Linked DNA regions of Homo sapiens. The protein of the gene in region 2 purifies or fractionates together with the protein of the main gene of each other region. This does not show direct contact. Each region holds a gene or a part of one and is shown on either strand. Other genes may lie near its edges. The genes, in order: MCCC1, ARHGEF26 and ACSF2.

Evidence for each region.
Region 1: the proteins of ARHGEF26 (region 2) and MCCC1 purify together in Homo sapiens (affinity purification with mass spectrometry; one large-scale study listed by BioGRID and IntAct). This does not show direct contact.
Region 3: the proteins of ARHGEF26 (region 2) and ACSF2 purify together in Homo sapiens (affinity purification with mass spectrometry; one large-scale study listed by BioGRID and IntAct). This does not show direct contact.

What each region holds. Positions count from the first base shown.
Region 1 is NC_000003.12:183,071,815-183,075,542, forward strand, and holds part of MCCC1 (methylcrotonoyl-CoA carboxylase subunit alpha, mitochondrial isoform 1 precursor), read right to left. Parts: intron 674-3,728; coding exon 552-673; intron 1-551.
Region 2 is NC_000003.12:154,127,890-154,131,389, forward strand, and holds part of ARHGEF26 (rho guanine nucleotide exchange factor 26), read left to right. Parts: intron 1-1,684; coding exon 1,685-1,830; intron 1,831-3,500. UniProt on the Homo sapiens protein: Activates RhoG GTPase by promoting the exchange of GDP by GTP. Required for the formation of membrane ruffles during macropinocytosis. Required for the formation of cup-like structures during trans-endothelial migration of leukocytes.
Region 3 is NC_000017.11:50,460,534-50,464,261, reverse strand, and holds part of ACSF2 (medium-chain acyl-CoA ligase ACSF2, mitochondrial isoform 2 precursor), read right to left. Parts: intron 3,586-3,728; coding exon 3,390-3,585; intron 3,021-3,389; coding exon 2,892-3,020; intron 2,630-2,891; coding exon 2,576-2,629; intron 2,079-2,575; coding exon 1,960-2,078; intron 1,843-1,959; coding exon 1,677-1,842; intron 1,107-1,676; coding exon 1,011-1,106; intron 868-1,010; coding exon 710-867; intron 445-709; coding exon 353-444; intron 45-352; coding exon 1-44. UniProt on the Homo sapiens protein: Acyl-CoA synthases catalyze the initial reaction in fatty acid metabolism, by forming a thioester with CoA. Has some preference toward medium-chain substrates. Plays a role in adipocyte differentiation.

The DNA.
Region 1 (3,728 bases), about 29 Mb from region 2:
CCTCAGCCTCCTAAGCAGCTGGGACTACAGGTGTGTGTCACCATACCCAGCTGAATTTTTTTTTTTTTTTTTGAGATGGGGTCTTACTCTGTCACCCAGACTGAAGTATGATGGTGTGATCACAGCTCACTGCAGCCTTGATCTCCTGGGCTCAAGCAATCCTCCCACCTCAGCCTCCCAAGATGCTGGACCCACAGGCACGTGCCACCATGCCTGGAATTTTTAAAAAATTTTGTAGAGACAGGGTCTCCCTGTGTTGCCCAGGCTGGTCTTAAACTTCTGGGCTCAAGTGATCCTCCCACCTTGGCCTCCCAAAGTGCTGGGATTACAGGTGTGAGCCACTGTGCCCAGGCCTGGCTGATTTAAAAAAAAGAATTTTGAGAGACAAGGTCTCACTAAGTTGCCCAGGCTGGTCTTGAATTCCTGGCCTCAAGCTATCCTCCTGCCTCAGTCTCCCAAAACACTGGTATTACAGGCATAGCCACATGCCTGGCCCAAACTATTTCAACTGACCTTCATACAGTTATATTTTAAAAGATATAAACTCATACCTCTTTATACCCATGTCTCTAATTGCAGATGGAGGAGGGCCTATAAAAATAATTCCTTCTTGCTTACAAAGTTCAGCAAATTCCATGTTTTCTGAGAGAAAACCGCATCCTGGATGGATAGCCTAGAAATGAGAAATAAAATAAAAAATTTACTCATCAGTGCTCAACTGGCAACACCTTAATGCAGGTGAAGCTGTCTTCCTCTGGGAGGCCTCTCCCTACACTGGTAATAGTATGGTCTCTATTAAACTCTGTTTCCAAAGAAATATCTGAAATATTCATATGAAAGCTCTGAAGGCTTACCTAAACCAGATGAATCTATATTTCTTTTTATTGTGATAATATATACATAGCAAAACACTGACCATTTTAGTTACTTGCAAGTATGTAATTCAGTGGCATTAAGTACACTCACAATGTTGGGCAACTGTCATCACCATCCATCCTCAGGATGTTTTAATCTCCAAACATAATTCTCCATTCCCTCCCTTTCCTTAGTCCCTAGTAACCAGGATTTTACTTTCTGTTTATGAATTTCTCTAGCCAAAGTACCTCATGTAAGTGGAAGCGTATAATAATTTGTCTGAGTTTGGCTTATTTCACCTAGCATAATGTTTTCAAGGTTCATTCATGTAACATGTATCAAAATTCCATTTGTTTTTAAGGTTGAATAATATCCAGTTTGTACACATTTTGTTTATCCATTAATCTCTTGATGGACATTGTGTTATTTCTACACATTGTGAATACTGCTGCTGTGAACAACAAGTATTGGTATACAAGTATCTGTTTTGAGTCCCTGCTTTAAATTCTTCTAGCTGTATACCAAAAGTGGAATTGCTGGATCATATGGTACAGAAGTTTCTATATACTTAAATTTAAAATAATATTGCAATTAGGGTAGAATGTCAAGAAGTAAAGGGCTTCAGAGTGGTAAGGGGAATTTGTCTATTCTGTCTCTGTGTAAAACTGGCCTAGAATTGAAATCATGGCATCCAAAAGCCCCAAACAGAACACTAGCTCAATAAATACCTCACTTATCTTCAGGTCATCAATGTCATCTTTCCAGAAAAAAAGCTAAGAAGCAAATGAAAGTCATGTATTAAAGTCTACAGGAGTGTCCCCTTATCCAAGATCCCTAGTGGATGCCTGAAACTATGAATACTACAGAACTGGACTGATACCAATTTGACCACGCTTCTGTTCATGTCTTCCAATCACAAATGTAATGCCTTTCCCATCTTAACTAAGTACTTGCCATGCCCTGTGGCCATAAGTTTTGCAGTTTGAGGTGCAACAGGAAAATGACATGAATTTGTTTTTCCTTCTTCACAATTTCACAGATAGAAACTTGGTCCTTACCAAGAACCAAGAAACCTCAACATACATATTTTTTTCTTTCCTTGAGAATTTTCACCTTTTCACTTAAAAGAAGCATTTCATGGCTTCTCTTTAGCATAAGTGAATTGCCACCATCATTGCTCTTGCATTTTGGGGCCATGATTTAAATAAAATAAGGGTGACTTGAACACAAGCATGGTGGTACCATGACAGTCAATTTGATAACCTAGATGGCTCCTGAGTGACTAACAGATGGGGAGTGGAGACAGCGTGGAGACACTGGACAAAGGGACGATTCACATCCTGGGAGGGACAAAGCAGACTGTGCAAGATCTCACTGTGTGACTCAGAATGGCGTGCAATTTGAAACTTATCAATTGTTGATTTCTGGAATTTTCCATTTAATATTTTCACACCATAGTAGACTGCAGGTAACTGAAACCACTCAAAGCAAAACCGTGGATAAAGGGGACAACTGTACGTGTACTTTCAGTGAAAAGGGCATCCCTCAGACTTCAGCCTAGTTACTTCCAGTGTACTCAGAATTTTAACAAACATACTTACTGGGATTTTAGCCCACAGAAGAGGAAATTCAGTAACTGAAGGACAGCAAGATTTCTAAAAGTAAACACGCTGACAGCAAAAAGGGAAGAAACAGAAGGAGGCAAAAGGCAGAGAAGACTTGGATGATTTAATGAGTGATGAAGCCACACCCTCTCCAACATCAGTAGCCCTGAGGGGATTTGTTCTTCTAAAATGTGAGCGAGTATTATAATTATGACCAAAACAATGTAAAAACACAAAGGTTCAGCCAATCCTGTTTCAAAATAGTTACACTCAAAGAACATTTCAAAATTAAAGGGGTAAGCTTCACATATCTGGGAAACTCATACGAATAGAAAAACCCACATCCTAGTGACAGGAAACAATGCAATGCCAGATACAGATAAAATGCTGGATACTCATATGTTGCAGCCAGTTTAGAGTTTTATATCTTTTAAACCAAAGTTCAATTTTATTTTATTAACTTTTATTTTAGGTTTGGGGTGCATGTGAAGATTACACAGGTGAATACATGTCACAGGGGTTTGTTGTACAGAGTTCGTCACCCAGGTATTAAGCCCAGTATTCAATAGTTATCTTTTCTGCTCCTCTCCCTCCCACCTTCCCCACTCAGGTAGACCCCAGTGTCTTTTGTTTCCTTCTTTGTGTTCTTAAGTTCTTATCATTCAGCTCCCACTTCTAAGTGAGAACATGCAGTATTTGGTTTTCTGTTCCTGTGGGAGTTTGCTAAGGATAATAGCTTCCAGCTCCATCCATGTTCCCGCAAAAGATGTGATCTTATGCTTTATTATGGCTGCATAGTATTCCGTGGTGTATATGTACCACCTTTTCTTCATCCAATCTGTCACTGATGGGCATTTAGGCTGATTCAATGACTTTGCTATTGTGAATGATGCAATGAACATACATGCACATGTGTCTTTATGGTAGAATAATTTATATTCCTCTGGGTATCAACCAGTAATGGGATTGCTGGGTTGAATGGCAGTTTTGCTTTTAGCTCTTTGAGGAATCACCCTGCTGCTTTCCACAATGGTTGAACTAATTTACACTCCTACCAACAGTGTATAAGCGTTCCCTTTTCTCCACAACCTCCTGACATCTGTTATTTTTTTGACTTCTTAGTAATAGCCATTCTGACTGGTGTGAGATGGTGTCTCATTGTGGTTTTGATTTGCGTTTCTCTAATGATCAGTGATATTGAGCTTTTTTTCATGTTTGTTGGTCACATGTATGTCTTCTTTTGAGAAGTGCCTGTTCATGTCCTTTGCC
Region 2 (3,500 bases):
GGTTTGTCATTGATCAAAACAATATTATGCAATGCGTGACTGTATTATGTTTCCTCTTATGTTCGCATTATAGCTTTTGTGTATGCTTTTCCTGTAGCTCTGTAGCTTCTCAGCTTTCAGACCTTAGACTTTCCTCATTGACCAAATATCTGACTGCCAGACTAGATCACACCCTACTGACAGTCTGTTCTCACCTCTATATAAATCCTTCAGTTTGTAGGTATGTATTTGTGTAAGATCATTATGTTCTCAAACTTATAGTGACTTGCCATCACATTTTGAGTAAAAATCAAAGTCCTTTAATGGCTGAGGCAAGGCCCTACATGATCAGCCCTCTGGTCACCCACAACTCCCATCTTCTTCTTCTTTTTTTTATTTTGAGATGGGGTCCAGTCTGGAGTGTAGTGGCATGATCTCGGCTCACTGCAACTTCTGCTTCCCAGGTTCAAGCAGTTCTTCTGCCTCAGCCTCCCGAGTAGCTGGGACCACAGGGGTGCACCACCACACTCGGCTAATTTGTTGTATTTTTGATAGAGGCAGGATCTCACTATGTTGCCCAGGCTGGTCTCGAACTCCTGACCTCAAGTGATCTGCCCATGTCAGCCTCCCAAAGTGCTGAGATTACAAGTGTGAGCCACCATGCCCGCCGGCCTCAACTCCCATCTTCTGTACTTTCCCCCCATTTCCTTGTACTCCAGCCATGCAGTCCTCCTTGCTGCTCTTGGTACATACAGACATACCAAGTAGACTCATGCCCCAGGGCTTTGCACTTGCTGTGTCCCTGATGAGATGCTGTTTGGGCACTAGTTCTTCATCAGAGTCAACATCAAGGGCCTTTTCTTTGTAGTTTTGATACAGGTGGCTCACTTTCTCACCTGTTCTATGTCTTTACTTAATTGTCACTCCAGTGAGGCCTTCCTAAACTACCCTACTTAACATCTACATGCCCTCCTCCCAGCGCTTTCTACCCCCCTTCCCTGTTTCATGTTTCTTCATGACACTTATCAGCATCAAAATACTATCAAAGTTATTTGCTTATTTATTGCAGTTCTCTCATGCTTTAGTATCAGCTCCTGAATATTGAGATTTTTAGTGTCTATTATTGTATTTCACGTGCTAAGCTGTTGCCGGTTCCTAGTAGGTGTTTTCTAAGTAACAGTTGAATGAATAAATGCATGAGTGAATTTGACAGTTTTTTTAATTAAACTGTTAGCTCATGAGAGGTGGATGAGGGCATGAGAGCTCATGAGGCATCAGAGGTGTCTTTCTTTTGTTTTCCATTTTACTCTCAGCCCTTGGCACGTCATAGATACACAATAAATGTTTATTAAATAGATAAATGAATGGTGATGGACCTTAAATAAAAGATAGGATGTAATTTAACCTAAATTACAGTGATTTAACAGGCCTGACTGTCCTTCATGAGTAGTGGACAGAGACATGGAAACTGCTTCTGTTGGCATTCTCTGTATGGGCTGGTCCCCTTCCCCTGCAGTTGAGTTTGAGATAGAGCTATGTGAATGAGAAAATCACTTTTCTGTAATTATTCTTCAGGGACTAAATCTGTTTGTCTCTCTGTTTATAAAATTGGAGGCCAAACATTGGGTACATATGATGTTTATTTAGAACAAGTAACATAATGATTGAGAACAATTAGTGACACATAGGCCTTGTTTTCTTGCAGAAAATGCTGTCCTGTATCAAAACTACAAGGAAAAGGCCCTTGACATTGATTCTGATGAAGAGTCAGAGCCCAAAGAACAGAAGTCAGATGAAAAAATTGTGATTCACCATAAGCCATTGAGATCCACATGGAGCCAACTCTCTGCGGTGAGTGTTTATCTTCTTTTCTATCTGTGGTAGGAAAAAAACAAGTTTTGGAAATTATGTGTGGATTTGGCTTTTGTTCTTTTCTGCCAGTGATCCTGTAACTAAGGAGAAAGACTCTTTTTAGATTGTGAAATGTTTCTCGGAACTCTGCCCGCACTAATGAGAACATGAACTTTGACACTTCTGATCAGGAAAATTAGGTTTGATAAAATAAAGTGCTATGAGATTGATGTACTGTGACCTCTGGAAACTCTTTCTGCGAGATCTCTCTTTTTGTTAAATATAGCCTGCACTTTATCATAATTATGGCTATTTACATATATATGCGTGTGTGTTTATGTATGTATGCGTGTATATGTACATGTATGTATGTACCTGTATATGTATCTCTGCACAATAGAAAGCTAGTTACAATTCTTCCTTGGAAATTTTTTTTTTTTTTTTTGAGATGAGGTCTTGCTCTGTCGCCCAGGCTGGAGTTCAGTGGCGTGATCTCGGCTCACTGCAGTCTCCCAGGTTCATGTGATTCTCCTGCCTCAGCCTCCTGAGTAGCTAGGACTGTAGGCGTGTGCCACCATACCCAGCTAATTTTTGTATTTTTAGTAGAGATGAGATTTCACCGTATTGGCCAGGCTGGTCTTGAATTCCTGCCCTCTAGTGATCCGCCTGCCTCAGCCTCCCAAAGTGCTGGGATTACAGGCATGAGCCACCGCATCTAGCCCTTCCTTGGAAATTTAATTTGATATAGAAATGTTTATATATTCTTAAAGCTGATTAATGAATGATATTCTGTTCCATCTCTGTGCCTTTTTTGTATGCCTGTCTCTGACACTTAATTTTGTGTTGATGAGTAATTTCTCCTCTCTGCATCAGACACCTTTTGTTTTTTAACTGTATATTTTTTTCCTCCTGGCTTACAATGTCACAGTTTGATGCTTAGTTTACTTGATAAGAGTTTGGGCACAGCATTTGCGAATATCTGATGAATTAGCAAGTAGAAAGGAATTCCCATGGCTGGCTTGGTTCAGGGGAGCTTTGCATCAAAAACAAGCCAGTACACCTCCATGAGTCCTTAGGCAATATCAGAGCAGAGGTGACAGAGATGTTTAGAATCAGGAATCTTGTGTATTTAGGGAACCCACTGGTGTAAGAAAAGGAGTTGTTAATGTTGGTGCTGTATAGCCAGGGCCGTGGGAATATGTGTATGTAAACGGTGGGAGACAACTTCTGCTTCAAGCTCTACCTTCCCTCTTCTAACCTGTATTGGAATTCAAAATTCAATACACCAAGCGCTTTCTCCCTGTCTTCTTCCCACCTCCTAATTTTGTTCTCAGGAGAATCTGTTCATTTCCAGGGCCTCTGAGGTATAGCACCCTTATGATTATGCCAAAAATTAAAATATTCACAGTGTCAGGGGAAGTAGAATGAATATGTGATGCTGGTATATGTAGGTGATAGGGAGTGGTGGGAGCTGTGGTGAACAGGCCTTATATAAATTGAGCAGCTACTACTTAGCTCAAACCAGGTGAGTGCAGGGGCTCAGTGTGACCAGATGTTCTGATAATTAGAAAAGAGAATGTACAAATCCAGACTTTTATGAGTATTTTCTCAACTCAAATTTTAAAGAAATGTTGTGTGTCCAAGAAAGTATTCAGATTTGCCCTCTATGC
Region 3 (3,728 bases), on a different chromosome or scaffold from region 2:
GGCTCGGATCAACTCTGGAGGTGCAGGGGACCCAGCAATGACACCTGAATCAGAGAGAGGGCTGACACAGCTCCCCAATTCTCCAGGCCCAGTGGAGTCCTTTCACCTACAGCTCATTCAGGGGAGGAACATTCCCTTTTCTCCTCTGACCCCGAGCCTTTCCTACACCTGGCAGCTGGCCCTGGGCTGGTGTCCAGGGACACTGGGGATCTCCCTCCCTCCCACCCACATTTTTACAGCGTCCTTCTTGCCCCCTATATAAAAGACTGGGAGCATAGCTAACTCACCCGGGCCATTCCTGTGGGGGAAGCAGCCCCCTCCCCAAGCCTGGCTGCCCTTGGCCCCACCCCACCTCCACACATGGTCGAGATGTCATAACTGGAGAAGTCTGGCTGGTTCAGAATGTCCACGAACATCGTGGGGGTACCATACAGGAAGGTGCCTCTGTATAGGAGGAGGTCTCGAAATTAGGCTTGGAAGTGGAAGGGAACTCCCTGTTCTCACCCACCCCGCCATGAAACTGCAGCAAAGGGAATAGGCAGGAGAAGCTCCTGAGGCAGGAACTGGTCCTCTCCTGGGGGTCCTCCACTGTCCCCATCCTCAGTCTCCTGGCTGGAGGGAGGAGGCAGCTTGGAAAGGTGTCAGGGCCCAGGAGTGAGGAAGAAGAGGGTTTTATCAGCCCACAAGTAGCCTGTCCACCAGTGCCCACCTCTCTCTGCTGATGGCCTCCAGTGCCTTCTTGCCATTGAAGATGGGAGAGGCCAGGATGAGGGTGGCACCGTACATCAGACACATCATTGTGCCTGCCACGGAACCCAGGCAATGGTACAGGGGGTTGGGCAGGATCATCCGCAACTGCTCTGGTGTCTGGTGATGGAGACAGGAGGCTGGGTCTGTCTTGGAGCCAGACGCCAGTTCCTCTCTAGCTGGCAAGGGGAGCCCAGCCAGCCCCCCACCCCTGCCTGAGCCACCCCTCCTGCAGCCTTGCCCTGGGCCTAGTGCCGCCTCACCTTCTCATGCAGTTTCAGGCGCTCTCCTAAAATGTTGGAGTTGTTGACAATGTTGTAGTGGGAGAGGGTGGCCCCCTTGGGGCTGCCTGTTGTCCCCTGACAAGGCAAACAGGGCATGGCTTGGCCTCCTTCTCATCTCCTTCCCACCCTGGGCCACTGCCTTGAAGAGCACGGGACCGGGAATCAGGAGACAGGGATTGTTGCCCCAGATCCATCTGTTCAGTATATTTGCAAAAGGTCTACCACGATACCAGGTGTCAGGGTCCAGCAATGCAGAAGATAAGGTCTCCGTTCTCATGCCACTTACATGGCCCAGAGAACTCTGCCACCCACAAGCTGGCTTGGGCAAATTCTCTCTTCTGCGTCTCTGATTCCTCATCAGCTAAATGAGGGGCAGCCTGTAGCAGTTCCAACCTGTGTTGGTTCAGTGAATCTGCCACTGCACCGGGAACAAGAGGGCTGGAGTGGAGAGGGCGGGGGGCTAGGGGAGGAAATGTGACAAGGACACCAGGTGCTGATATTTTCCAGGGCAGAGAGGACAGCTGAAGGCCAGTCTCAGTAAAGAAGGCATGCTCTCCTCTGCTGTCTCCCCATCCCCGCGGAAGTGTCACAGGGACAGGGGGCATGTGTCCATCTGGGCTTGGGGCCTGGAGACCTCTGCCCTACCGAGGTGAACTGGATGTTGATGGGGTCATGGCAGGACAGGAACTGCTGGTTGTATTGGAGCTGGTCCAGATGCTGCCGTGTGCTGCCAGCCGCCACCACTTCATCCAGGAGCAGGGTCCCCGGCAAAGGGGCATCCACCGAGATGACTGTGGTCAGATCTGGGAGCCTGGGGTTGGGGACGATGGTGAGAGACAGGGGCTGAGGGAGGGGGCAGGGTGGGTAGGAAGTGAAGGAATCAGGGATGCTGAATGATGCACCACCCACTAACCTGGGACACACCCACCTCTGACTCTTCAAGGCCCCTGGCTGGGCATTCTCCACTTCTGGACAGATCTGCTTCAGGACGTTGTAGTATTGCTGGGTCTTGAATTGCTTGGGGAACACAAGGGCCTTGCAGCCCACCTGTGGAAGGGGAGTCCCCCACCTCCAGTCAGCGGGGAGCCCCAGACTAGAGCTCTGGGGGAGTCCTCACTAATCAGCTGCTCTCATACAGATGCACCCGCTTCTGACACACACACCTCCAGCACACTCACAGGCACCACACTCCAAGACAAATGCACACATGTACCAGCCCCGAGACACACACACCACACCCTGAGACACATATGCATCACATATGAGGATGGACACACGCACACACACACACACACACACACACCTCTGCCCTGACACACACATGCCCCCGTCCCTGCACACTCACGCCAGGTTTGTGTCTGACCAACCACGCTCTCCTTGGAGTTGGGGCCACCTTCCAATCACACATGGCCTAAGGAAGGACACTCTGCGTATCACCCGCCTATGCATGCCCTAGCTCACACCGTCAGACTCTGACAAGCAGAGTCTGTGCAGCCCCCTGTGCCAGGCCCCAGCCGGGCCCCTCCCCGACAAATGAGCTGTACCTTCTTGAGGACATACTCCAGTTCCATAGCCTGGTAGGCTGGGTTCACAGACACCTGGTGGAAGCGGCGAGGGCATATCAGTATTCTGGGCAGACCCTGTCCCTCCTGCTGCCCCTCCGCCCCCAGGAGGCATAGAGGCAGCACTCTACAGCCCCCTAACTCCCAGAGACCTCCTTGGTGGGCCTCAGGAGAAAGCACTACCTGGTTTGAAACCAACAAGGCACTGGTTTGATCCTGGGGCTGAGGGCCTGAGGGGCTCCCCTTCAGTGATGTTCCCCCATGCACACCAAGCTGTGCCAAGCAAGCCCCTCCTCACCAGAATGATGCCCGCCTGGGCGGTGGCCAACTGCATGAGCACCCATGCATAGGAGTTAGGTCCCCACATGCCCAGCCGGTCACCTTTGCAGAGGCCAATGCTCAGGAGGCCAGAAGCAGCTTTGTCCACCTAGTGTAAAAGATGGGGCGCAAGGGGTGAAAGGGGGCAAGCAGGAAGGGGCCCAAGACTCCCACCCTCAGCCCTTAGCCCGGAGTTCTCATCACAGTCACTGGGGACAAAGGGACAGGCAGATTCCCAGCCTCAGTGGGTCTGCCCTGGGGCCTGCATAGTTAACAGGTGCCCCAGGAGCTGCTGATACAGGAGGCATTGGACCCCTTGTGCGTCAGTCCTGTCTCCTTCTCCTGCCATCCCTCGGGGTTCTCTGGCAGCCCTAGCACATTGCCCCATAGCCAGGTGCCCACGCTCCTGGTTCTGCCCAGCTAGGGCAGCTTGGGAGCTAGTACTTGCCCACTTTGAGGTTTCCAGGTCAGGACCCACCTCCTCCTTGAGTTGGGCAAAGGTCAACCTGACGTCTTCATGGAGGACGACCAAGGCCTCTCGTTCTGGGACCCTCTGTGCTGTGGTCTCCAGGCACTGGCCCACAGTCTTGCTGTTAAGATGCTTTTTGGTGCACCCCTGAACGTAGCTGAGGCCTCCGATGGGCGTGGAGACCATGCGATCCACCTCTCTGGAACTGTAGGGAGAGGAGCTATGGGTTTGACTGTCCCAGATCAGTCTCCCTGGAACCAAGGGCATGGCACACCCAGCCAAGCCAGGGGGTAGGCTGCTGACAATGTGTTAGAGACCACTAGGTTTCCTCCAGATCTTCTTGTAAGC